Homo sapiens: one gene and its partners. The protein of the gene in region 3 purifies or fractionates together with the protein of the main gene of each other region. This does not show direct contact. Each region holds a gene or a part of one and is shown on either strand. Other genes may lie near its edges.

Region 1 (2,260 bases), on a different chromosome or scaffold from region 3:
TATATATGGTACAGTCACTGGTAGCTGTTAAGTTGCCAGTGGGACTGGGGAACTGGATTTTAAACTTTATTTAATTGTAATAATTAAAATTTAAATAGCCACTTGTGGATGGTGATTACTGTTTTGGCACAGGCAAAAGTCTACTCTCTTGCTCACTGGCTAGATTTGGGGCAAGCTATTACATCTCATGTTTGGAACCTCAGTTTCCTTATCCACCAAATGGGAGCACTGTTTCTCTGAGGTTACTTTTTAGCCCAAGTAAGTTCCTTATGTGAAAAGCACCAAAGCTCTGTATAGGCAGACAGAGCAGTTTCAGAAATTAATGGTGCCTGGACTGCAATGAATGGAGTCTCTGGGTTGGGACCCCTGGCAGGAATAATGGCAGGACCAATCATGAGACTGCACCCAGTGGGGAGCTCCAGGCACAATTACCAGCCATCTGGTCTCAGGGAAAAGAAGCCCCACCTCCCCTCCTTTCACACACACACACAGCATAGACCTCATGCAGCCCCAAAGGGGCAAAAAGAGACTTTAATTAGGGGAGGGAGGATCCACCAGAATCAGAAAAGGGACAGCTAGCGTGGGAGCAGAGGAGCCAGAACAGGCAGGAGGAGGGCCCGGCCAGGAAGCTCTGGAGGACTCACCTCGCCACCTCTGGCACAGGCACTGGCACTGACGGACAAGGCGAAACAGCGGCCCCTCTCAACTGGGAGGGCACCCAATGGCCCCTGTAGCCAGAGGTTGCCCGGCTTTTGGGCCCCAGGTCCTAGGCATGACTGGTGGTCACCAATTTGGCCCTTGTCCCCAACCAGTGCTGGGGGGCCATCTTTAGGCAGAACTCAGGAAGCTGGCAGAGAGTTCCCAACACTTATACTGGGGCCAAGGAGGCTTGGGAATAAAAGGGCAAGGGAGAAACTGGAGTCTGAAACCTCCCTCCCTCCCCACCTGGGGTGGCATAGGAGAGAAAAAATAAGTCGCCTTCTGGCTCCAGGCCCGCCCAGACCCACAGCAACCAATAACGTATAATCACTGGGACCAGTCACAGCCACTGGAGGTGGAGGTTTAAAAAAAAAAAAAAAAAAAAAGACAAAAAGGTTACAGTATCCTACAAGCACAGAGTTTAAGTTTCAAGACGTTAAAAAAAATCTGTCCCGGCCCAGGGGACTGAACATCAGAAGCCAGCCTGACCAGGCACGTGTGGCCTTGGGGCAGGTCCACTGCTGCTTTCTTGCCCAGCTAGCAAGCACACCACCCACCTCCCGCATCAAATGCCCACCCCAACCCAACTCCCTGCCGCCGCCGCGCTGCTCGGGGAGTGACTCCAGGACGCCTTCGTGGAGACATGGGTAGTCTGAGGGGGAAGGCCACGAGATCCAGCCAGATGGTTTAAAACTGTCAAGAGAACCAAGAGGCAGTGCATGGTGGTTATTATTGCATCCTGGTGGCACTGCTCTAAGGAGGTGCATGAACCTGAGAGCTGCCACTGTGCTCATATCTGTGAGGGGCAGAGTTGGGTCCCAGGACACCTTGTGGTCATGCTCTAATTCAGCCAGCTTTCAGAAGTGACCTATGGGCACCGGCCCTAAGCCTAGCACTAGATAAGGCAGAAAAATTAAGAGCCATGAGAGCTTCTCCACAGCTCCCTTGTGCCCTGGCATGGAGGCTGCTAGAAAGCCCTGCCAGCGTCCTGCCTGGTGAACTGAGGTTGCTTTCTTTAGGCATGGGGGCTCTCATGCAAGGGGCCTGGGGACTCAGAGGGCCAAGTGGAAAAGGACCCAGGTTCTGGTACTTTTGTGTCAAGCTCTGGATGAACCTCCAACCAAGCCAGGCCCTTGAAATGTTTTCTGCCCTCAAGGGTCCCCCATGCTGCCTAGGACAGCCCTGCACATTTTAGAGACCAAAGGTTGTGAACCAATGGCCCATGCCTGAAACTAGCCCAAAGATGAGCACTGCATGGCCCACATGGTGTTTAAAACAATATGAATTAGTTGCCAACCTTGAAAACATGGAAGATGCCATATACAAATCCAAATTTGGGGGTTCAATGGCCTGGAGCTGTGTGGGAGCCAGCCCCTGCACATGAGGCATGCGCTCAGCAGCTCCTCACCCTGCCCACTCCATACTCAGCCCACTCCATAGCTACCCGACCTTTGGATGCACCTGAATTTGTGACCCTTGACAAAGGCTATGGTACTTTCTTAGACCTCTGAGTCCGAAAACCCAGCTCCACATTCTGGTTCCTCCTCTTACTGGCTGAGGG
Region 2 (3,500 bases), on a different chromosome or scaffold from region 3:
TCTTTGTCCAGCCTGACACTCTCCAGGAGGTCCTGAATATCAGATTTGTCTCCAGAGTTATGGATAGAATACAGCTCTGCCACTTTCTGCTTTTCATTCTCCAGCTGAGCCTTCAGGCGATTCATCTCTATCTGGTCACTGGCCACTGTGGCTTTGTATTCCTCTAACGTGGCTGCCAAGGCTGCTTTTCCTTTCTGCTCAGACTCAATAATTCGCTCCATATGGTGACTGCGTTCTTTGAGTGCCCCTATCATTTCTTGAGCTTCCTTATTGTCTTGTTCTGCCATTTTCAAAGTATTGCTTAAATGCTGCTGGACACCAAGAAGCTGCTCCCGTTCAAAACGGGCATTCTCAGCGAGGTCCATGTAACGTTGCTCTAATTCCATATAGCGCCCACTTTTTACATCTTCATCTATGACATAAGAAATGTGATGCTCATCTAGAAGAGAGCGGAAGTATTCAATCTGTCGACTAAAGTGTTCCAACTTATCGCTCTGCTGACATAAAGACTCCATCAGAATAACCTTCTCTTCTCCAAGCCTTTCGTTTTCACTATTCAGTTCCTGGGTAATCTGCTGTAAATCAGCTAGCTCTTGCAGGGTTGCCTGGAGTTCCTCACTTGTACTGTGTTGGTTCTCTTCCATCTGGTGTATCCGTTCAGTCAGGCAAGCCACGGACACTTCACTGGCATTCCCGCTGCTCCCCTTCCGGGAGCGCTCTATGCTGGGGATGCCTTCCGACTCTGAGGAGGATGGTGCATCCAGCGCATCATCGCTCGATGTGAGGGGCTGGTAGACCTCACTGCACTCACTGTCTAAATTGTCCATGGAGTTACTGTGCTGATGGTCCATTAGTGTATTTTCATCCTGACTCAAGAGATCCTCCACTGAGCCAGGGGCAGAGCCTTCCACTGAAGAAGTCAGAGTTCCTCCTCCATCGCTCTGGTTACCAGGGGTGATTTCTGGGCTCAGGGACTGATAGCCAAACAGTTTTTCAGAATTGTCTAACCTCTGCTCTAGGGAAAAGCCCAATGCATTCAACCTGTCCTTTAACATTCTGTTTTCATTTTTCAGCTGGTTGAGTTCTTCACGGATGGCAGTATTCTGTTCCTGCAACTGCAATAAAGTGGACTCCACATCAGTCGGCTGGTGAGCCATAATAGTTTCCTTCTCAGATTTTTCATCACCCTCAGAATGATCCTCATTAATGCCCAGCTGGGCACGCATGTCTCGCAGTTCATTTCTCAAATGTAAAATTTCTACGTCTTTGGTTTTTGCCAGCGTGAGAAGATCCTTCACTTTGGCCTCCAAAGCAGCTCTGTCACTGATCTGATTGTCTGACTTAGACTTGCTCATACGAACGTCACATTCTGTAGCAGTTCGACTGCGGGAACGTTTGGCCAATGCCATGTCATTAGCTCCCTGACCTGCAGAAGGTAGTTTTTTGCTCTGGTTTAATCGGGTACGTTCACGTAATCTTTCTCTAGTAGAACTGGATTCTTTATTACCTGTAGAAGTGCTCCGCTTGGTTGAAGAAGCTGTGCCTATGTGTTTAATACAAAAAATGTAAGGCAAAAATGTCAGCAATAAAAGGCTACATAGAATACACAGTTCCTGCCCCAGGTGTAATGAGATGAAATCCAGGATCTACACAATGATTTAGATCTACAATAATCTTGCCTTAGAGTCTGTTAAAGTTCAATTTCTTCAAAACCAGAAGATCATTCATCTTTTAATTATCAAGGAGAAATAAGTTATACACTTTGTTTTACATGTTTTTAAAAGAGTAAATTTTATGGAATGTGAATTACATTTCTACAAAGCTGTTATTTAAATGATATACATTAACTTGAATCCAGAAGTGGGGTTTTAACCAGTTGGCCAGAGGCATAATATTCTAGGGCAAGACAGGTGAAGATGACTCCAGGATTAGCCAGTCGGTGGTAAACTAACTGTACACAGATAGTGAAGGGAGATCATAGGTGGGCAAGAAGGGAAAAGCAGTCTCTGGGAAAACCAAAAATCTAAGCTACCTACTAGAAACACAAAAATTTTACTCTGACCAAAGTAAATGCAAAATAGTTTTAACACCATAAAATGCCACATAAATAATAACAATTATAACAATAGCTAACACATACCTAGCACTTGGTTATACAAATACATTAACACTTCACATACATTAACTTATATAAGCCTCATTAAAGACGTGAGGTAGGTGCTATTATCACCTTGTTTTACAGATGAAGAAACTCAGACACAGATGTTAAATAATTTGCCAACATGTCACAGGTAATAAATAGATGAGCCAAAATTGAAACCCAGGCAGTCTGGTTCCAGATTTTGCACCTTAACCAGTATGTTATACTGTCTCTCTAAATGTAAAAAACAACGAAGCACTAATGTTAAATAATGATGATGCGTCAATCAAATCTACGTGAATCACATGATTACTTAACTACTAAAATTTTAAACCTGTGAAAACTGACACAATCATTTGTTTAATACAAAAAGAACAGGAAGTTTTTTTTGTTCGTTTTTTTGGTTTTTTTTGAGATGGAGTCTCTCTTGACCATCACCCAGGCTATAGTGCAGTGGAGCGATTTCGGCTCACTGCAACCTCTGACTCCCAGGTTCAAGCGATTCTCCTTCCTAGGCCTCCCAAGTAGCTGGGATTACAGGAGCGTGCCACCATGCCTGGCTAATTTTTTTGTATTTTTAGTAGAGATAGGGTTTCACCATGTTGGCCAGGCTGGTCTCAAACTCCTGACCTCAAATGATCTGCCCGCGTCGGTCTCCCAGCGTGCTGGGATTACAGGCGTGAGCCACTGAATTTACAGGCGTGAGCCACCGCACTTACAGGCGTGAGCCACCGCACCTGGCCAGGAATATGTTTAAATACCTGTAAATACTTAAGAAATAACAAATTTTTATGTTAAAAAATAAGATCCACATCTAATCAATAAGTATTTTTAAAGACCCTGCTGGTTCATTAGGTGGTGGGATCCAGGCTGTAGAGGTAACAGGGAGCAAATGATCTCCACAGATAGAGGGAGATAGCCACTAACAGAACAGGTATACAGGAGGATGCGGAATTCAGGCTGGCAAAAAGACAGACAACGAAAGGAAGCAGAAGTGAACATGGCACACAGAAAGGAAAAGTACAGTCACACAGTTAACGGAAGCTGCTGGGGAATGTTCATATAGAGTCCCAAAAGATAGGCAGAATTCAGTGAGTCACACTAAGTCAATAAATGATCCTGAGTAGGAAAGAAATGTAAGGAAAAGTACATTTTATGAAAATTAATCTAGAGGATACTGATATGGTTTGGCTGTGTCCCCACCCAAATCTCATCTTGAACTGTAGTTCCCATAATCCCTATGTGTTTCGGGAGGGACCTGTTGGGAGGTAATTTAATCATGGAAGCAGTTACCCTCACGCTGTTCTCGTGATAGTGAGTTCTCATGACAGCCGATGGTAAGGGGCTTCCCCTTTGCTTG
Region 3 (2,943 bases):
CCTGCAAGTTAAGACCAGCAAGAATTAGGATTGCAGAAAATAAGAAAGAGAGTTTTCTTGGTGTCTCCTAAGTTTCTTTGATTCCACATCCATTCACCGAGCACCTACAAGGTATGTATTTGGGGCTGTGCTAAAAAATGTGATGAGAATCCTGTTCCCAATAAATAGAAAATGGAAAAATGGAGACAGCCTCTCATCATCTCACAATAGGTCAGATTGCCCACAGAAGCCCCAACGAGGGTATGGTTGATTCTGGTTATGGGGCTGAGGCAGGCATTACAGAAACTGTACCATTTAGTAACACCTTAAAGGCTGAGAAAGTTTGTTACCAAGCTAAGGAACCGGGCAGGGGTGGGAGGCAGTGTGTAATTTACAGGAGAGGAAACTGCACAAGTGTCTGCTTAGCAATGTGGAGAGGGATATGGTCCTGGAGGAGGAGCCTGTGGGACTCGGGTGTGCGTGTGCGGAGCTTGGGGGCAGGAGGGGAATCCAGGATAAGGTGAAAGGAGAGATGAGTAAGCTGGAGAGAAAGCCTGGGGCAGATCTGAGGCCTCCTTGAACGTCCTGCAAACATTTGAGCTTCATCTCTAGCAAACAGCAGCCATCGATGGCTTTTAAACAAAGAAAGGACAAAATCAGATATTCCATATAGAGCAAGCTCCACACAGCCATTTCTTCTCTTCATATTCACTAGCTTGTAACCTCTTTAGGGAGATGTCACGATGGGCACTCTCGGTCTCGAGATAACTGATAGATGCACCTCAGGCAGGCCTAGCAAGGGGCAGACACCACTTGACGGGCATTTGAGTGGGGGAACCACATTTCATCCCATCTGGGACCATGGACCCCAGAAGGGAAGATGTTTTACTGCCATGAATTCATTCATTTGTTTAACTTTATTATCCTAATTTTCTTCTGCCAAGAGAAAGTAGCAAAGGCTGACATGGAGACTGATTTTTGATGTCTCAGGGTGAGAATTCCAGTCTCCAGTACTGAGGTGAGAACTTCATCGTGGGCTCAGTGTAGACGGAAGCCCAATCCACTCCATCCCTGCTTCCTTTCACCTTTAGGGTAAGTCATCAACCAATAGATTTCCACACTGCTCAGGAGCCCCACATGAGGCCCAAGGCCCTCGATCCCAAGGATCCCTTTCATCTCCGGGGGATGCCCCTGCCTCCAGAACGGCCTCTGGTGCCAGATGCCCAGAACCTGCACCACCCTCCCCGGGCCCTCACTTACTGGGGGGAACTTCTTCCTCTGGATGTACTCAGTGACGGCAGGGTCAAAGTCCCTGGCGTAGCCCTCGTTAAGGCTGTAGATTTTACCTTTCTTTTTTATCTTCACATCCTTGTCCACCAAAATGAACTCCCCGATGGCCTTTTTAGACAAGGAAGGAAAGGTGGAGAGATGACGAGCGCACTGGGTCCCCCAGGCCTGGATGAGGCGAGCGATGGGCTGGGCTACGCTGGGCTGGGGTCGCGGCGCACGGGCACCACTCATCTTGGGGCCCCGAGACACCTGCCAGGCTCTCTGGGAACTGTGAATGGGGTGAGGGGAAGCAAGACAATGCTGCAGAAGCCATCAGGGTGATAACAGACACTTTCGACTTTGTTTGCATATGATTTCAGTCAAACAAGAAAGAAACCACACAAAAATAGGGAGAGCAGACTTGTGAAACAACTGCTAAGCCTGCAAGAGAGTAAGAACCGTGTGTCCAAAGCAATATAAGATGTGTATGCCTTTACCAAACAGAAAAAAGGGTTGGTTCAGGCGGGAGGTGGGCTCTCAGGAGAGACGGGCCACCGCAGGATCAGTCCCTGAGTTACACCCAAGTGCTCAGCGCTGTTCTCGGCTTTACATTTCTACCTTGATGGGAGTTCTCCTTTCTGGGCGTTCTTATAGAACAAAGTAGAACCCTGAGTTTTGAGTCTGGCGTACGTAACTTCCGATGGCCTTTGCTCGCTGGCGTGTGAAGTTTTTCTCAGACTGCCTCTTCCCACATAGCCCAGGGTTAAGCTTATGCCTTTAAGCTTTAGGCTCTTCAAAGGAGATTTGAATTTGGGGGAAAAGTGTTGCAGAAGTCCTATTGCTCCGGATTGAGGATTGTTATGGGTTCCTGTGTGTTTTTGGCAAGAGGGTGATCGAGGCTCTGCCCATTTAGGAGGGGCTTGACGTTGACACAAGAGTTGAAAAGAAAAAAGGCCCACCGACACCTCTCTACCTAGCCATTTATTCCACAGCAGAAATTGGTTCCTACCCATATGGAATACGTTGAAACCAGACAGACAGGGAGAAAGGGAGGGGAGAATTCACAGTGGCCATTGAAAGGTGTCACTGGAAGTGATTCTTCTTTCTTACTTTTATGCCTTTTTTAATATTTTCAAAATTTTTGACCACAAGTATACCGGAATATTCTTTTATCGTTGGTAGAAAAATAAATAAATAAATGTCTTTCAAAAAACTATATAGAAAAGAAAGCCATCTCACAACAGTTGCTGGGTGCAGAGCGCAGGGCCCAGCCAGACTGTCCATGGTGCAAAGGAGGAAAGTCTGTGTACAGAGACAAAACATAAAAGCTCCCAGAAAGTTGAAGCCGCTGGAAACCCGAGTACAGCTGTAGCAGTGTTTTCAGCAGAAACCGTCAGCCTGGCTTTGCAGCAAGCGCAAACAAAGAGGAAGCACTTAGCACCTCCCTGGCGGGAGGCTCAGCCCCGTCAGGCACCGCAGACAGAAGGGCTGGAATCAAATCCCAGCAGCCCTGCATTGCGCTTCCAAACATTCAGGACTGAGGAGGGCAAAAGACTATCAAACACACAGAAGCTTCCCTACAGGGATGCTCCCCTGCAATCTGGAAACAAGAAGGGATTGAATGTTTTCTCTGCTTCCACCAACTCAAAGGTAACAAGAGAAGGCACCAGAAGAATGGGAAGCAGTCAGGGCCCG
Region 4 (3,500 bases), on a different chromosome or scaffold from region 3:
ATCTATTCTGGGATGATATCTCAGGCTGAGTAGAAGCTGACCCTGTTGATCTCAGCCCTATCAGCATCTAGTCAGGACCTGGTAGCCTTTGTATCAGCGTGAAGTCAGTTCCTCATAGTTATCTTTTCTTAGCAGAAAAGTGAGTTGGATCAGTAGCCAAGGTGGTAATTGCATCGCTCTCAACTCTTTGGTTGCCCTCACTATCTTTTCTTGGCTTCTTCCTATTTGCATGCAGCAAAAGCAGGAAATGAAAGGATACTCTGGAATACCTGGCCCTCTCCCTGCAACTGAGAAATATTTTTATCTTTCTCAGTCAAACTCAGCTGTCATCTTTTCTCTGTGCCTTTCCCTGACCTGCCCAAGCAGAATGGCTCCCCATGCTCTGCATGGCCTCTGGCCATTACTCCCTAAGGTGGCTGTAAGGATCATCCCGGCTCTGAGCTCCTGGATGCAGCAACTCTGGCCCCTTTGCACCTCCCTGAGCCTAGCACAGTACCTGGTGCTCAACAGATGCTCGTCTCAACCTCGAGGAGCATCTCCTCAGCCTTGTATCTCTTTGCTACTGCCCCCCTTGTAGCAGTGCCACGCTTCCTCCCTTAAACCTGGTCAGCTGGTTTCCCTGGCAGGGTGGAGCGAGGCCCAGCCCCTCTCACCAGACAGCATGCGGCCCCTGCGGGAGGCCTCGGTCGCCAGGGCGCAGGAGATTTCAATCCGCTTCTCCTGCTCCTGCAGCTGGCTCTCTGAGTCCTGGGGCACGTCCACAGAGTCCCCCTCGCCGATGGGCACCACGTTCTGCATACTGAAGAGGCACAGACACACAGAAATGGAGGGAGGGACAGGATGGTCCAAGTGGCTTGAGGGGGCCTGCGGACTGAGGTTGGCAGGGAGGGCCAGGGCCCCGTGAATGTGCAGTCTCTGGTTCCCAGCAAGGCTGTCCCTAGGAGTGAGTGGGACCCTGGCAAAACACAGGTTGGGACCCCTACCTTCAATGTTCTCAAATGAATTAAAAGGTTCAAGTGAGCATTTAGGGCAGCCTTGAAGGGGAAAAGAAGTCACCAGAGGGCGAGCCTTCAGTTTTGTCTCGATGGTGTGGTGTGCACGAGCCTGGCAGGTCTTAGTAGCACCTGACAGCAGCATCCTTGCCTCTGCCGGTAGCTGGGCCCTGTCTGCTGCCTGGAGTCACCACCTCGATGTGCTCTCCCCTGGGGAGGCTCTGTGCCCCCAACGACTTCTAGTGGCCCAGGTGTCCTAGGTGCCAGGGTGAGCAGAGGAAGTAGAGGCTCACCCAGGCTGGTTACCTGGATTTGGCAATGAGTGTCTTGATCCTCTCCACCTTCTTCTGCTTCTCCTTCAACTCCTCAGGGCTCAGGGGAGTGTCAGGCTCCAGGTCAATGTACCGTTCAGGGATGAGGACTTTGTCTGGAGTGGAGAGCTATGGAGGGGCTGGGGTCACCACCTCTGTCCCTTCCCAGAGTCTCCCACTACAGCCCTTCCTGGCTCCACTCACCTCCTTATTGATGTCCACGTCATAATGCTGGGGCTCTAGCTCCATTTTGCGAAGCCGGGCAATTTCCTCCCGGGGTGTCTCGTAGGCATGCCCGCCAGGCTCCTCTGCCCGCAGGGCTGCCTCCAGGTTGGAGATGTCTACCTCATGGATGCTGCGGTGGCGGCGCACCTAGGGGACAGCAGCATCGTGATTGCACCATGGCTACCCATGCCTCCAGGCAGCTCTAGCTATGCCCTGTCCTCGCTTTCCCTTCCCAGCTCGCCTGATCTAGCTGCCACCCCACTGCTCCCACCATACCCCACTGCAGAACTATCTTCCTTCCTTTCTGCTGGCCCAAAGCCTGCCCACCTGCTAGGCCCCAGGGGCAACATCTCATCATCTCTTGTCAGTTCTTGCTGTTCCCCATCCTGCTCTACCCTGTATTCTCATTCTGTGCTACATATTTTGGGCAGCTGAATTAGTGTGACTTGTATTGATTTCTTCTTTTTATTTTTTAAGAAACAGTGTCTTGCTGTCACTCTAGCTGGAGTACAGTCACAGAATCATAGCTCACTGCAGTCTCCAACTCCTGGCCTCGAGTCCTCCCATCCCAGCCTCCTCCCAAGTAGCTGGGACTATAGGTGAATCCACCATGCCCAGCTACTTGTTAAACATGTTTTTATAGAGATAGGGTCTTGCTTTGTTGTCAGGCTGGTCTCAGACTCCTGGTCTCAAACAATCTTCCCACCTTGGCCTCCCAAAGTGCTAGGATTACATGCATGAGGAGCCAACCACACCCGGCTAACTTCCAGTGATTTCATATTATAGAAGTTCTAATCCATCAACTAGAATGTAAGCTGTTGAGGACAGGACTTATGAGTCATAATTTTTCCATATTTCTAAAATTTAATGGAAAGAAAATTTAAGTGATGTCTTGGGCTACATCCAGCTCTGTACTTAATAGCTGTGTAGCCCAGGAATCCTTTAATTTCTCTTGACTTTGTTTCCCCATCTGCAAAATAGGGATAATAATTCCTAACCCAATGTTGTTAAAAGGATTAAATGAAATAACATGAAAGGGATTTGTGGATTATACTGTGCCATGCAATGGTGAGCTATTATGATTATCTTCATCGCAGCCAGCCCAGTGCTAGGCACAGAGGAGATGCTCCAGAAATGGGTGTAAGTGACAGCTATTTCTGTGTGGTGAATTCTGTACTATTCTCTATTAAGTGAATTTTGTATAATTCATTTCAACAAACATAATTAAGGCATTCCTTTTTGTGAGTTATTTTCTTTAAACAAGAAAAAGTCAACACTTGAAGGACTCTTCTGCCGATGGGGGAGAGGACTCTCCGGCTCTCCCAGGTGCCCAGCTTGGGTTCTTTCCCCTCTCCTTCCTCTCAAACCCCCCAGGCCCAAGCTGGCCATGCCCTGGGAGTGGGCAGTGTTGGCAGATGCCAGGCTCACGCCTGTGGGTAGCTGGGAAGGCATTACCACTTTGTAGGCTGGCCGGGGACTGGGGTCGGGGGCCGGGCTGGCCGGGAGCTGCAGGCTCCTCCGCTTCTCCCTCATGGAGCCACTCTGGTGCCGCCGCATTCGGTCAATCTGCTCCTCCACGCTCATCTTGACCTTCCCCTCGCCAGGAAACACAGCACTCTTGGGGCGTTCCTGCTGCCATGGGAAAACAGGGCTCTGACAAGTGCCTTATCCCCCACCCAGCTTTTCCATCCTGAACCCTTAACATTTACCTTCTACGGGAAGTCTGCCTGTAGTGGACTGAAGAGTGGTCCCCAAAAGATATGTCCAAGTCCCAACCCCAGGTATCTGAGAGTGTAACCTTATTTAGAAATATGAGATCACCCTGAATTAGAGTGGGCCCTAAATCCAATGGTGTGTCCTCATAAGAGACAGAAAAGAAGATGACATACAGAGTAGAGGTGACATGAAGAGGGAGGCAGAGATCGGAGTGGTTCATTTACTCAGAAAGGAATGCCAAGGATTGCCAGCAATA
Region 5 (3,464 bases), 1.0 Mb from region 3:
GCGCCAGCCCCTCCCTGGAGCGGGATCGCCGCAGCTCTCCTGGCCGCCTCCGGCGCCGTTAGCCCACCATCCCCCGCTAGAGGGCAGCACGGGGCGCTTTCTCCAGGCGCTCGGCGGACCTGGGTACGGGGACCTCATATCAGGCTGCAGAGAAGAGCCTTCAGTCAAAAGGATGGCATGAAAAACGGACTATACTTGTAACATCCAGCTTTTAAAACGTGGTGGAGTCAAATTTATTGCTTCCTCAGGGCTTAAAAAAACCTCTTCTGTAAGTCTGCTTTATCAAACAGAATTTTTTTATCCCCTTGGTTGCTTGAAACTGAGCTATCAAACAAATTAATCATATATTAATGTCCCTCTAAGCCGGAAACCTGGAATTACTTTGAAAAGGTAAAATATTTTTCAACTTTGGTTTTCTGATCTTTTCAGTAGTTGTTTCGATTTGAATTAAACCTCTATAAAATTAGCTTTTACAAGTGAATTTAAAAGCCACGCCATACTTTATACTAAAAGAATAAAGATTTTTATTAAGCATTGTAAGTTGCATTCAATAGCCTTCAGATACACCACACCACAATCCATCGACAGTCAATCAAACCCAACAGCAGTTCATTCTTGCACAATCCATGAGTTAGGGCAAAACTCCCTTCAACTTACAGTAAGATCCTACTTAGCTCTTGCGGGCAGGGGTTGGGGAATTACACCTCATTTCTGATCACTAATGTGATGAAGAGCATCAGAAGTATATGAAAACGATAAGAAGTGATTCTGATTTCAAAGTACATTGTTTGGAAACATTAACAAAAACATCAAAATGATAGAAGTATACCTGCTTCTACTAAATTCTTGATGGGAAAGTTCTCAAGAACAAGCAATTTGTTTCCTGCTACAGAAGGGGGGGGTGGTTTTTTTTTTTTTAAGATCAAAGGGTTTTTTTTCACAGAATTTCATATTTGCTAATATGAAGGCATAAAACAGCAACAAAGAACAATAATGCATACAGCAGTGAATACACCAGGGTAATGTTGATATTCGAAACGGCTAGATAATTTTTGGGGGGCTTTAGAATAAATGCAACAGAGGTCAATAATCACAAAATTTTAAGGTTAGAGCAAGATCAGTCAATGACTAAACAGAGTTAACATCTTTTATAGGACTATTACTGATTATTAGCATTTTTGTTTTGCAAATGGGCACATACTGTTAAGAATGGAAGAAAGGACGATAACATGCATATTAACTACACACTTTAAAAATTATGAACCATGCAGAAGTTTAGCTCAAGTAGTAGTACTAATGGTCTACATCCGATTCAAAACCACATAGTTCATTGATCACAGATGCATGGTATTAGTCACGAAAGTTTCAGAACACATTGTGTTGATTTTGAAAGGTCATTTGCATCTTCTATGATTTCAACTTTATCTCCATTTAACTTGCTTGTAAAGTATGTATGATGTATTGTATATTTAAAATCAGCAGAACGGCAATATTACTCTATAATTTTTTAGTTTTGATAGTTGCACTTTTTTTTTTTAACACAAAAGAACCACATCAACAGTGATGAAATTTAAGAAAGAAAAACTGTGGTTGTGCCTTATTTCTTTCATAATCATAAAAATCAAAGCCTTAAAGAAAGCTTCATTGTGAAACAGTAATGCAAAATCAAATATAATGGCATACATATGGTGCCAAATGCTAAAAATTATATTTTAAGCTATATATACTTAAAGACTGCCAAAATTTGTTTTCTTTATAGTTCAAGAAACACAACTAAAGGCTTTTGTCATAACCAGTTTAAACTTTATGTGTACTTCATTTTAAGTGCGGGAGTCAAATGCTCTTCATTTTCTTTCTCTTTTTTGTTTTATTGTAGCATTTTGACTACAACTGGTTAAAACTAAAAATGTGTTGTTTAAATCTCTGATATCAAAGAGGGATCTGAATTTCCAAAGTCCTCATTTTTCTCTTACGGAAAGGACAAAATGTACATAACTGCAGGCTCTCTTTCTCTCCAGATATTCCTAAATCCTTACCCTTCCAGCATCCTTCACCCTCTATAAAAAATAAGTTTACTCTTCTTTATTTAAGACAGCTGCCTCCAGAGCAGCTTCTCTGCGGCAAGCGCTGTCTGTACTTAGTGCATTTAAATGAGGATTTGTATTGCACGTTTTAGAGTCATTATTCAAGGCACTTTCAGAGTGGCTGGGGGCCCTGGCGTCACCCGTGCTCCCGTTCATCTGGGGAGCCGGCTTCTCCTCGGCCATCACTCCGTTTTCAGCCAGGGACCCGTCTGAAGACATAGCAGAGGACTTCGATTCCCCAGATTTTGACTTAAGTTCTTTGGCCACTTCTTCTGCTGAAGCAGCATAAGGAGGTCTGCCCTGTTTAAAATGAAGGACAACAAATGAGAAGGTGGTTTCTGATAAACAGAAGAGAGAGGATGCCAATTTTGGCCTAATGACACTCTCTGCAGATTCAAGAGCAGAAAATGCCCAGCTGGGTCCTTCTAACCCTGTCTTTGCTTTGACTTTTGGGCGGTAGATGCTCTACCTGTCTCAGTCAGTTCCCTCCATGGCCCCTTCCCTCAACTCCTCTGTAGTTAACACCCTGAAAATGAGGGAGATTCCCCCTTCAGGAGCTCTGTCTAATCCTTTGTATGGCACTAAATTGTTTAAAGTAACAAATGCCCCTCAATAAGTCCTCTCTAAAATTGCGACTGTTCCCACTGCCACAAAACAAACAGGGTCTCCCACATCTGCCTGTGATGTGCAGCAGCACACACACCCCATTTCTACTGGGGAAATACAGTCATTGCTAGGGAACCTTAACAAGAAATCTGCACTGATAATTGCCACGTGTTTGTGAAATAACTCTTCTGAATGGGTCTTCCCCACTCCTCTGAACAGATTTAAAAATAAGCCTCTGAAAAAAATGGTCCTTGAGACTAATCCAGCACATTTTCTGAAAGACATGGCTCTCTGTGAAGGCAGTGAAGACAGATCTTGAATTGCTCCTATCATTAGACCAGGGCTCCTCAACCTTAGCATATGATACGCTGGCTCTGTCCACTCTCCGTGATGGGGCTGTCCCACACACCGTAGGGTGTTTAGCAGCACAAACATCATGTTGTCTTCACCCGTTAAAATGTCTAGGCTTCACCCATTAAAATCCAGTGCCCACACCAAGTCTTGACAATCAACGTCTCCAAATGTCCCTTGGGGGCCAATCACCAGGGCTGAGAGCCACTGTCATAGACTGACTCGGTGCTGAAGAAAACATGGATGTTTTTCACCTTCAAACAGTCATTTTACAGACGAGAACAGGAACCTTCCAGCTCGTCATCGCATTCCCTTCCCAACAAAGATGGTGGTACCTTCCAGCATCTTCTAGGCCTCCCATTCTGAAAACCAGGGTATTTGCCTTGTTGATGACAAAATCATCAACCCAGATGGAGATGTGAC
Region 6 (3,999 bases), on a different chromosome or scaffold from region 3:
AAAATATCATTGGTCTTTAAAGTTATACATTCATTCTTTGATAATTGCTATGTTGAACGCAACCTCCTAACTGCTTTACAATGATTAAGCACTAATGATTTGAACCCAGGTTTAAAGTCTGACTCTCAACACATGTGCTCTGCCTTCTCACGAACATGATTTCAAAAATCATAGCCCCGGGATTTGGGATTGGTGGCTTATGCCTGTAAACCCAGCGACAGAGCAAGACCCTACTCTTAAAAAAAAAAAAAATTAAAGAAAAAAAGAAAAATAAATCATAGTGTTGAACTGGCAGGTTTCACTGAGACGAAACTTGGGACTCTTCCTTTTTTTTTGTTTCGAATAAAGCCATTCTAGAATGAGACAAAATTCTAAAATATTTTATAGTTAACAGTTTAAATTGGGTTTAATCTTGACAAGACTATCTAGGGCTATATACACAAATCTCTTTTGGAGAAAATACCACAACTAAACTGAAGTCTATTCCTGAATATGACAGACCAGGTCAAATGGTTATCCTTGCCCTCCCGGGGGATGTCACTCATAAACGTGCCAAAAGTCACAGTCTAGGCCCCATTACCTTACATGCTCATGACCTTCCCAGGGAGGCCCCTCGCCCTTACCAGGCACTTTCATCTTGGGAAGACACATCAGTCCTGGCGGAGAAAGCAGCAAGGCCTTTCCCCGGCTCACAAAAATTAATACAAATCTCAGAGGCTGCATCCCACAGCCGTGACCACCGTGACTTGGCATCCCCTTTTCTGCAAACTTAAATGTTATCTAGAAATCGGGCCTGGCTCTGAAAGCCAAGGGCCTGGCAGGAGCCCGAGAAAGGGGAGAAACTTTCTGCGGCCCCAAGCTAATGGCAGTCACTGCACCGAGACCCGTCCCCTGGCATCCCTTTGCTCCAGCTGGCCAAGACAGACCACCAAGGTCAGCCAGATTTCCACCCAGTCTGGCCGGGCCCGGACCCAGCTGGGAATGAACCGAGAAGCACCGGGACCCGGATCCCGGCGTGAAAGGCCGCGCGCGGGGCACGGCGGGAAAAGACGCTGCGCGCAGAAACACCCGCCCCGCGCCGCGCTCTAGTGGGCGGCCCTGCCGCGGGCGGCTCTGATTGGACTGCCGAACCCCGCGCGCTGATTGGCCGCGTGGGCGAGGCGGAGGAGAGCCGTGCGCAGCGGCGTATGTGGGGCCGTGTGCAGACCCGCGTGTGGCGCAGGCAAGGACCCTCAAAATAAACAGCCTCTACCTTGCGAGCCGTCTTCCCCAGGCCTGCGTCCGAGTCTCCGCCGCTGCGGGCCCGCTCCGACGCGGAAGGTGAGGGCTGGGGGAGGGGCCCGGCGCTGACGGAGCCGCAGTGCGGGTCGGGTCTGTGGCGGACAGAGAGGGTAGGGAGCGGCGAGGTGGCGATGGCGGCCGCACTTTGGCCTGCGCCTCTGCTGCGTCAGGCGGGAAGCTCGGCTGCTGCCGCCGCCTCGGACCCGGGTTTCTGGCGCACCGCTGTCGGACGACACTTCTGTCCTTTCTTCGTCCTGGAAAGCTGGGTCGCCGAGCATGCGGGTCTTTCGGCGCCACGGCCGCACCCCAGGCCGCAGGCTTAGGGCAGAGGAGGCCCGCCCGTGCGCCCTTGGGGCCGAGGCCCTGACGCTTCGAGGGTCGCGGAATGAGGGACCGAGGGTGGATTTGGCGGGAACTCACTGGAAGGAGTCCGTGTGGTGGGGAAAGGCTCCCGGCTGCGGATGAAGGGGGGATGGGGTGGGTATAGTCGTGCAGGCCATGTGCTGGGGTCGTGCGCCTGGCGGGCCATGTGCCAAGGGTTTTGGGGGCCTTAGAAAAGGGTTCTTAGGCCGGGCGCGGTGGCTCACGCCTGTAATCCCAGCACTTTGAGAGTCCCAGGCGGGCGGATCACGAGGTCAGGAGTTCGAGACCAGCCTGACCAATATGGTGAAAGTTGGTCTGTACTAAAAATAAAAAATTAGCCGGGCATGGTGGCGGGCGCATGTAGTCCCAGCAGCTCGGGAGGCTGGACAGGAGAATCGCGTGAACCCCGGAGGCCGAGGTTGTGGTGAGCCGAGATCGCGCCACTACACTCCAGCATGGGCAACAGAGAGAGACTCCGTCTTAAAAAAACAAACAAACAAACAAACAAACAACAACAAAGGGTTCCTGAAGAAGCCTTTGTGTTTGGAGTGGCGAGACTGCTGGAAGACTTGGGAGCTTTTAGAGTTTATACTCCCTATCCTTGATAGTTTTCCGATTCTTGAATTTTTATCGTCATTTAAATACTAAGTTGCTTGTGTTACATTACCATTCCAAAAGGGGCTGATGGGGCTCACATTCCAAGAGTTAACACTATTTAAGTTGCTGGGATCCTTTAAAAGCGCCATTACCAGAAAAAACACGAATTTGTCAAACCTCCAAAACCACAGCAGCGGGCGGTAGTCTGCATCATTTCTTGGATTAATGAAACAGATGTAATTACAAACGAGACACGAAATTCAACTAGCTCCCCTCCATCTAGATTTTTCCATATCGTGAGAACCTGTTTTAGAATGGCATAATGGTCCACATTTGGGTTTAGGTGTTGATTTTATTATGGGTAAGGCTTGTGCTTGTTCCCACATGTTAACCATATGGCCTCAGCCACAGGGCACTTCCAAAGGAAGTGACTGTTTCTGGTCTTGGGGGTCTTGTAAAAAGAGAACATTGCTCAGTAATCGTCTGTGATTTTAGCTAGTGTGTTTCAGGCATTATTCAGAAGGACTCAGGTGAGATAAGCCAAAACTGAATTTGTTTTTTGTCTTTCTCAAAGTGAAGGAGGTCTAATGAATATCCCCATCTTGCTTTTAAATTACATTTTTAAAAGTAGATTTTTCCCCCTTTCCTATTGTTTGACCCAATTTTGGAGTGAAACGTAACCAGTTACTATTTCCATTCGAATTTAAATTAGCAATTTTATGTTATTTGTTTGTTCAAGCAGTATAACTGGAGTGTAGAGCTTTGAGGGTTTCAAAAAGATAAGAGATATAGTACTTATCTCCTGGGCTTCCCCCTCCCCCCTCCTAAATAGTTTTAAATGCTTCTAATGAGTTACTCTGGTTAAGGATAATCAAACACCTGTAAACTGCCAGGATCCTAGGTACATGCTGTTTTTAGTTTGTTGAGCCTGATTCTTGTCTACAAGAGTTCTTTGTGTATTGGAATATAAAAGGAATAATTTATTACATTCCCAAGGGCAGAATTAAAGACTTAAGTTTTTCCGATTTCATCTCTTGATAAGTTTTTCTTTAAAAAAATAACAGTTTGTGTTTTTCTGAGGAACCAAAGGTCCTCTTTTTTTTCATATTGGTAACAGGAGAGGTAATGTATTTCAGATGGTGCAGTCTGTAAAATATTTTGAACCAAATCAGTGGAAGACCAGGGGTTTTTCTTTTTTTTTTTCTGAGACGGAGTCTCACTCTGTCGCCCAAGCTGGAGTGCAGTGGCGCGATCTCGGCTCACTGCGACCTCCGCCTCCCGGATTAAGCGATTCTCCTGCCTCAGCCTCCGAAGTAGCTGGGATTACAGGCGCCCGCCGCCACACCCAGCTAGTTTTTGTATTTTAGTACAGACGGGGTTTCACCATGTTGGCCAGGCTGGTCTCGAACTCCTGACCTTGTGATCCGACTCCCTCGGCCTCTCAAAGTGCTAGGATTACAGGCAGGAGCCACCGCGCCTGGCCAGGTTTTTCTTAAACTGGCATTTGAACATCTGGAACAGGCAGGGAGATGTCTTTTTTAAAGTATAAATGTGTTTTGTTACATGATTTATGACAATTCTACTTGTCTTTTTTTTTTTTTTTTTTTTTTTTTTTGAGACAGAGTCTTTCTCTGTCGGCCAGGCTGGAATGCAGTGGCACAGTCTCGGCTCACAGCAGCCTCCATCTCCCGGGCTCAAGCAATTCTCCTGCCTCAGCCTCCCAAGTAGCTGGGATTACAGGCGTGTGCCACCACGCCC
Region 7 (3,500 bases), on a different chromosome or scaffold from region 3:
TGATTGGCCATGGCTGTATACTTGTCTTTCATTGGTACTGAATCCAGACTGACCCTAGGCATCTCTTGATGGCCCATGACTTAATACCTATCTGGCAAAACCTGTGCTGGATCTTACCTGCCCATGAAAAGTTGTATCTCCGAAATGTTGCTGGCTAGATCCATGTATACCTATTGTATTGAACTCTAACTTCCCATGCCTAGATCCTAATTGCTCATGAGTGTCTTTCTCCCAATCTTCTGAATGCTTTTTGTTATCAGTATGGGATTCCTGTTTTCTGATTGAACTAGATTTTGAATGGCCATGAACTGATATGGATTGTCCATGGCCAAATCCAAGGTGGTCATTTGACTGGCTATGTGTACATCCCTCCCTTCTGGCTGTGTTATATCCAGGTTGAACATAGGTGTTGTTTGACTGTTTATGAGTTACTATAGAATGTCCATGACTAGATTCCTGACTTCTTATAATAATAGGTCGAGACTGATACTGAGAATCAACTGAATGTTCATAACTTACCATTGACTGTTCATGATTTAAACTGTGTCTTCCTGTTCTTTTAGTTGCTTTGGATACTATAAGGTCAGAACTAGAAAATAACTGTCAATGTCTAGACAGTTGCTTGTTTGCAGTGCTGTCTGTTGACCATGAAAGGTGAGAATTACTGATGCTTTTTCTGCTGCCACCAGAAGGCCCATACCCAGTGTGCCCATAGTCATATTCTGCAGGTCCATAGCTGCCATGTTTCCAAACCTGACTTGATCCATGCCTTTGCCTTTCACTACTATGTGACTGAAAATGACTTGCTCTACTAGATCTGGAACCTGTCTGTGTGGATTGTCCATAACCAGAATGGCCATGTCTAGTGGTATCTCCTGTCTGTCCATGAGTAGTTTCCAGTCTCCCATGAACTGTGGATCCTGGCTGTCTTTGTTGAGATCCAGCTTGGCCCTGAATGTGTCCTGAATGTGTGTGTGAGCCCCATGAGTGCACTTCACTGTCACTGGACTCACTGTGGCCAGATCCCCTTCTTCCAGTTGTCCTGGACCCTCTCTGTGTGGATTGTCCATAACCATAGTGGGCATGTCTAGTGGTATCTCCTGTCTGTCCATGAGTAGTTCCCTGTCTCCCATGACCTGAGGATCCTGACTGTCCATGTCGAGATCCGGCTTGGCTGTGAGTGTGTCCTGAATGTGTGGGTGAGGCCTCTGAGTGCACTTCACTATCACTGGACTCACTGTGACTAGATCTTTGTCTTCCAGTTGTCCTGGAACCTGTCTGTGTGGACTGTCCATGACCAGACTGGCCATGTCTAGTGGTATCTCCTGTCTGTCCATGTATAGTTCCCTGTCTCCCGTGAATGGCAGATCCTGACTCTCCATGTTGAGATCTGGCTTGGCCATAAGTGTGTCCTGAATGTGTGTGTGAGACCCCTGAGTGCACTTCACTGTCACTGGACTCACTGTGGCCAGATCCCCTTCTTCCAGCTGTCCTTGACCCTCTCTGTGTGGACTGTCCATGACCAGAGTGAGCATGTCTAGTGGTATCTCCTGTCTGTCCATGAGTAGTTCCGTGTCTCTCATGAACTGAGGATCCTGACTCTCCATGTTGAGATCCGGCTTGGCCATGAGCGTGTCCTGAATGTGTGTGTGAGACCCCTGAGTGCCCTTCACTGTCACTGTACTCACTGTGGCCAGATGCCCTTCTTCCAGTTGTCCTGGACCCTCTCTGTGTGGACTGTCCATGACCAGAGTGGCCATGTCTAGTGGTATCTGCTGTTTGTCCATGAGTAGTTCCGTGTCTCTCATGAACTGAGGATCCTGACTCTGGATAGTGAGATCCAGCTTGACCGTGAGTGTGTCCTGAATGTGTGTGTGAGACCCCTGAGGGCCCTTCACTGTCACTGTACTCACTGTGGCCAGATCCCCTTCTTCCAGTTGTCCTGGACCCTGTCTGTATGGTTTGTCCATGACTAGGGTGGCCATGTTCAGTGGTATCTCCTGTCTGTCCATGAGTAGTTTGGTGTCTCTTGTGAACTGTGGATTCTGACTCTCCATGTTGAGACCTGGCTTGGCTGTGTGTGTGTCCTGAATGTGTATGTGAGCCCCCTGAGTGCACTTCACTGTCACTGGACTCACTGTGGCCAGATCTCCTTCTTCCAGTTGTACTGGATCCTGACTGTGTGGACTGTCCATGACCAGATTGAGAATGTCCACTGGTATCTCCTGTCTGTCCATGAGTAGTTCCATGTCTCTCGTCAACTATGGATTCTGACTCTCCATGTTGAGATCCAGCCTGGCCGTGAGTGTGTCCTCGTGAGTGTGGTCTTTGTGAGAACCCTGAGTGCCCTTCACTGTCACTGTACTCACTGTGGCCAGATGACCTTCTTCCAGTGGTCCTGGACCCTGTCTGTGTGGACTGTCCATGACCAGAGTGGGCATGTCTGGTGGTATCGCCTGTCTGTCCATGTATAGTTCCATGTCTCTCATGAACTATGGATTCTGACTCTCCATGTTGAGATCTGGCTTGGCCATGAGTGTGTCCTGAATGTGTATGTGAGACTCCTGAGTACCCTTCACTGTCACTGTACTCACTGTGGCCAGATCCCCTTCTTCCAGTAGTCCTGGACCCTGTCTGTGTGGTTAATCCATGATGATAGTGGGCATGTCTAGTGGTATCTCCTGTCTGTCCATGAGTAGTTCCATGTCTCTCAGGAACTATGGATTCTGACTGTCCATGTTGAGATCCAGCTTGACCATGAGTGTGTCCTGTATGTGTGTGTGAGACCCCTGAGTGCACTTCACTGTCACTGGACTCACTGTGGCTAGATCTCTGTCTTCCAGTTGTCCTGGACCCTCTCTGTGTGGACTGTCCATGACCAGAGTGGGAATGTCCAGTGGTATCTCCTATCTGTCCATGAGTAGTTCCGTGTCTCTCATGAACTGTGAATTCTGGCTCTTCATGTTGAGATCCGGCTTGGCCGTAAGTGTGTTCTCGTGAGTGTGGTCTGTGTGAGCCCCCTGAGTGCACTTCACTGTCAGTGGACTCACTGTGGCTAGTTCTCTGTCTTCCAGTTGTCCTGGACCCTGTCTGTGTGGTTTGTTCATGACCAGAGTAGGAATGTCTAGTGGTATCTCCTGTCTGTCCATGAGTAATTCTGTGTCTGTCATGAATTATGGATTCTGACTCTCCATGTTGAGATCCACTTTGGCCGTGAGTGTGTCCTGAATGTGTGTGCGAGCCCCCTGAGTGCACTTCACTGTCACTGGACTCACTGTGGCCAGATCCCCTTCTTCCAGTTGTACTGGACCCTCTCTGTGTGGATTTTCCATGATGATAGTGGGCATGTCTAGTGGTATCTCCTGTCTGTCCATGAGTAGTTCCGTGTCTCCCATGAACTGTGGATCCTGACTCTCCATGTTGAGATCCGGCTTGGCCATGAGTTTGTTCTTGTGATTGTGGTCTGTGTGAGCCCCCTGAGTGCACTTCACTGTCACTGG

What was found.
Region 1: the proteins of FBP1 (region 3) and ARPC4 purify together in Homo sapiens (affinity purification with mass spectrometry, with the first as the bait; one large-scale study listed by BioGRID). This does not show direct contact.
Region 2: the proteins of FBP1 (region 3) and SPECC1L purify together in Homo sapiens (affinity purification with mass spectrometry, with the first as the bait; one large-scale study listed by BioGRID). This does not show direct contact.
Region 4: the proteins of FBP1 (region 3) and PLEKHA6 purify together in Homo sapiens (affinity purification with mass spectrometry, with the first as the bait; one large-scale study listed by BioGRID). This does not show direct contact.
Region 5: the proteins of FBP1 (region 3) and FAM120A purify together in Homo sapiens (affinity purification with mass spectrometry, with the first as the bait; one large-scale study listed by BioGRID). This does not show direct contact.
Region 6: the proteins of FBP1 (region 3) and CNBP purify together in Homo sapiens (affinity purification with mass spectrometry, with the first as the bait; one large-scale study listed by BioGRID). This does not show direct contact.
Region 7: the proteins of FBP1 (region 3) and FLG2 purify together in Homo sapiens (affinity purification with mass spectrometry, with the first as the bait; one large-scale study listed by BioGRID). This does not show direct contact.

The regions. Positions count from the first base shown.
Region 1 is NC_000003.12:9,805,342-9,807,601, reverse strand, and holds the end of ARPC4 (actin-related protein 2/3 complex subunit 4), read right to left. Parts: intron 1,393-2,260; coding exon 1,387-1,392; 3' UTR 501-1,386; downstream 1-500. UniProt on the Homo sapiens protein: Actin-binding component of the Arp2/3 complex, a multiprotein complex that mediates actin polymerization upon stimulation by nucleation-promoting factor (NPF).
Region 2 is NC_000022.11:24,319,331-24,322,830, reverse strand, and holds part of SPECC1L (cytospin-A), read right to left. Parts: intron 1,544-3,500; coding exon 1-1,543. UniProt on the Homo sapiens protein: Involved in cytokinesis and spindle organization. May play a role in actin cytoskeleton organization and microtubule stabilization and hence required for proper cell adhesion and migration.
Region 3 is NC_000009.12:94,605,576-94,608,518, forward strand, and holds part of FBP1 (fructose-1,6-bisphosphatase 1), read right to left. Parts: intron 1,378-2,943; coding exon 1,240-1,377; intron 2-1,239; coding exon 1-1. UniProt on the Homo sapiens protein: Catalyzes the hydrolysis of fructose 1,6-bisphosphate to fructose 6-phosphate in the presence of divalent cations, acting as a rate-limiting enzyme in gluconeogenesis. Plays a role in regulating glucose sensing and insulin secretion of pancreatic beta-cells.
Region 4 is NC_000001.11:204,227,430-204,230,929, forward strand, and holds part of PLEKHA6 (pleckstrin homology domain-containing family A member 6), read right to left. Parts: intron 3,161-3,500; coding exon of another isoform or gene 3,158-3,160; coding exon 2,984-3,157; intron 1,676-2,983; coding exon 1,508-1,675; intron 1,433-1,507; coding exon 1,299-1,432; intron 800-1,298; coding exon 654-799; intron 1-653.
Region 5 is NC_000009.12:93,563,149-93,566,612, reverse strand, and holds the end of FAM120A (constitutive coactivator of PPAR-gamma-like protein 1), read right to left. Parts: exon of another isoform or gene 3,050-3,464; intron 2,385-3,049; coding exon 2,073-2,384; 3' UTR 501-2,072; downstream 1-500. UniProt on the Homo sapiens protein: Component of the oxidative stress-induced survival signaling. May regulate the activation of SRC family protein kinases. May act as a scaffolding protein enabling SRC family protein kinases to phosphorylate and activate PI3-kinase.
Region 6 is NC_000003.12:129,181,097-129,185,095, reverse strand, and holds the start of CNBP (CCHC-type zinc finger nucleic acid binding protein), read left to right. Parts: upstream 1-1,199; 5' UTR 1,200-1,320; intron 1,321-3,999. UniProt on the Homo sapiens protein: Single-stranded DNA-binding protein that preferentially binds to the sterol regulatory element (SRE) sequence 5'-GTGCGGTG-3', and thereby mediates transcriptional repression. Has a role as transactivator of the Myc promoter.
Region 7 is NC_000001.11:152,350,007-152,353,506, forward strand, and holds part of FLG2 (filaggrin-2), read right to left. Parts: coding exon 604-3,500; 3' UTR 1-603. UniProt on the Homo sapiens protein: Essential for normal cell-cell adhesion in the cornified cell layers. Important for proper integrity and mechanical strength of the stratum corneum of the epidermis.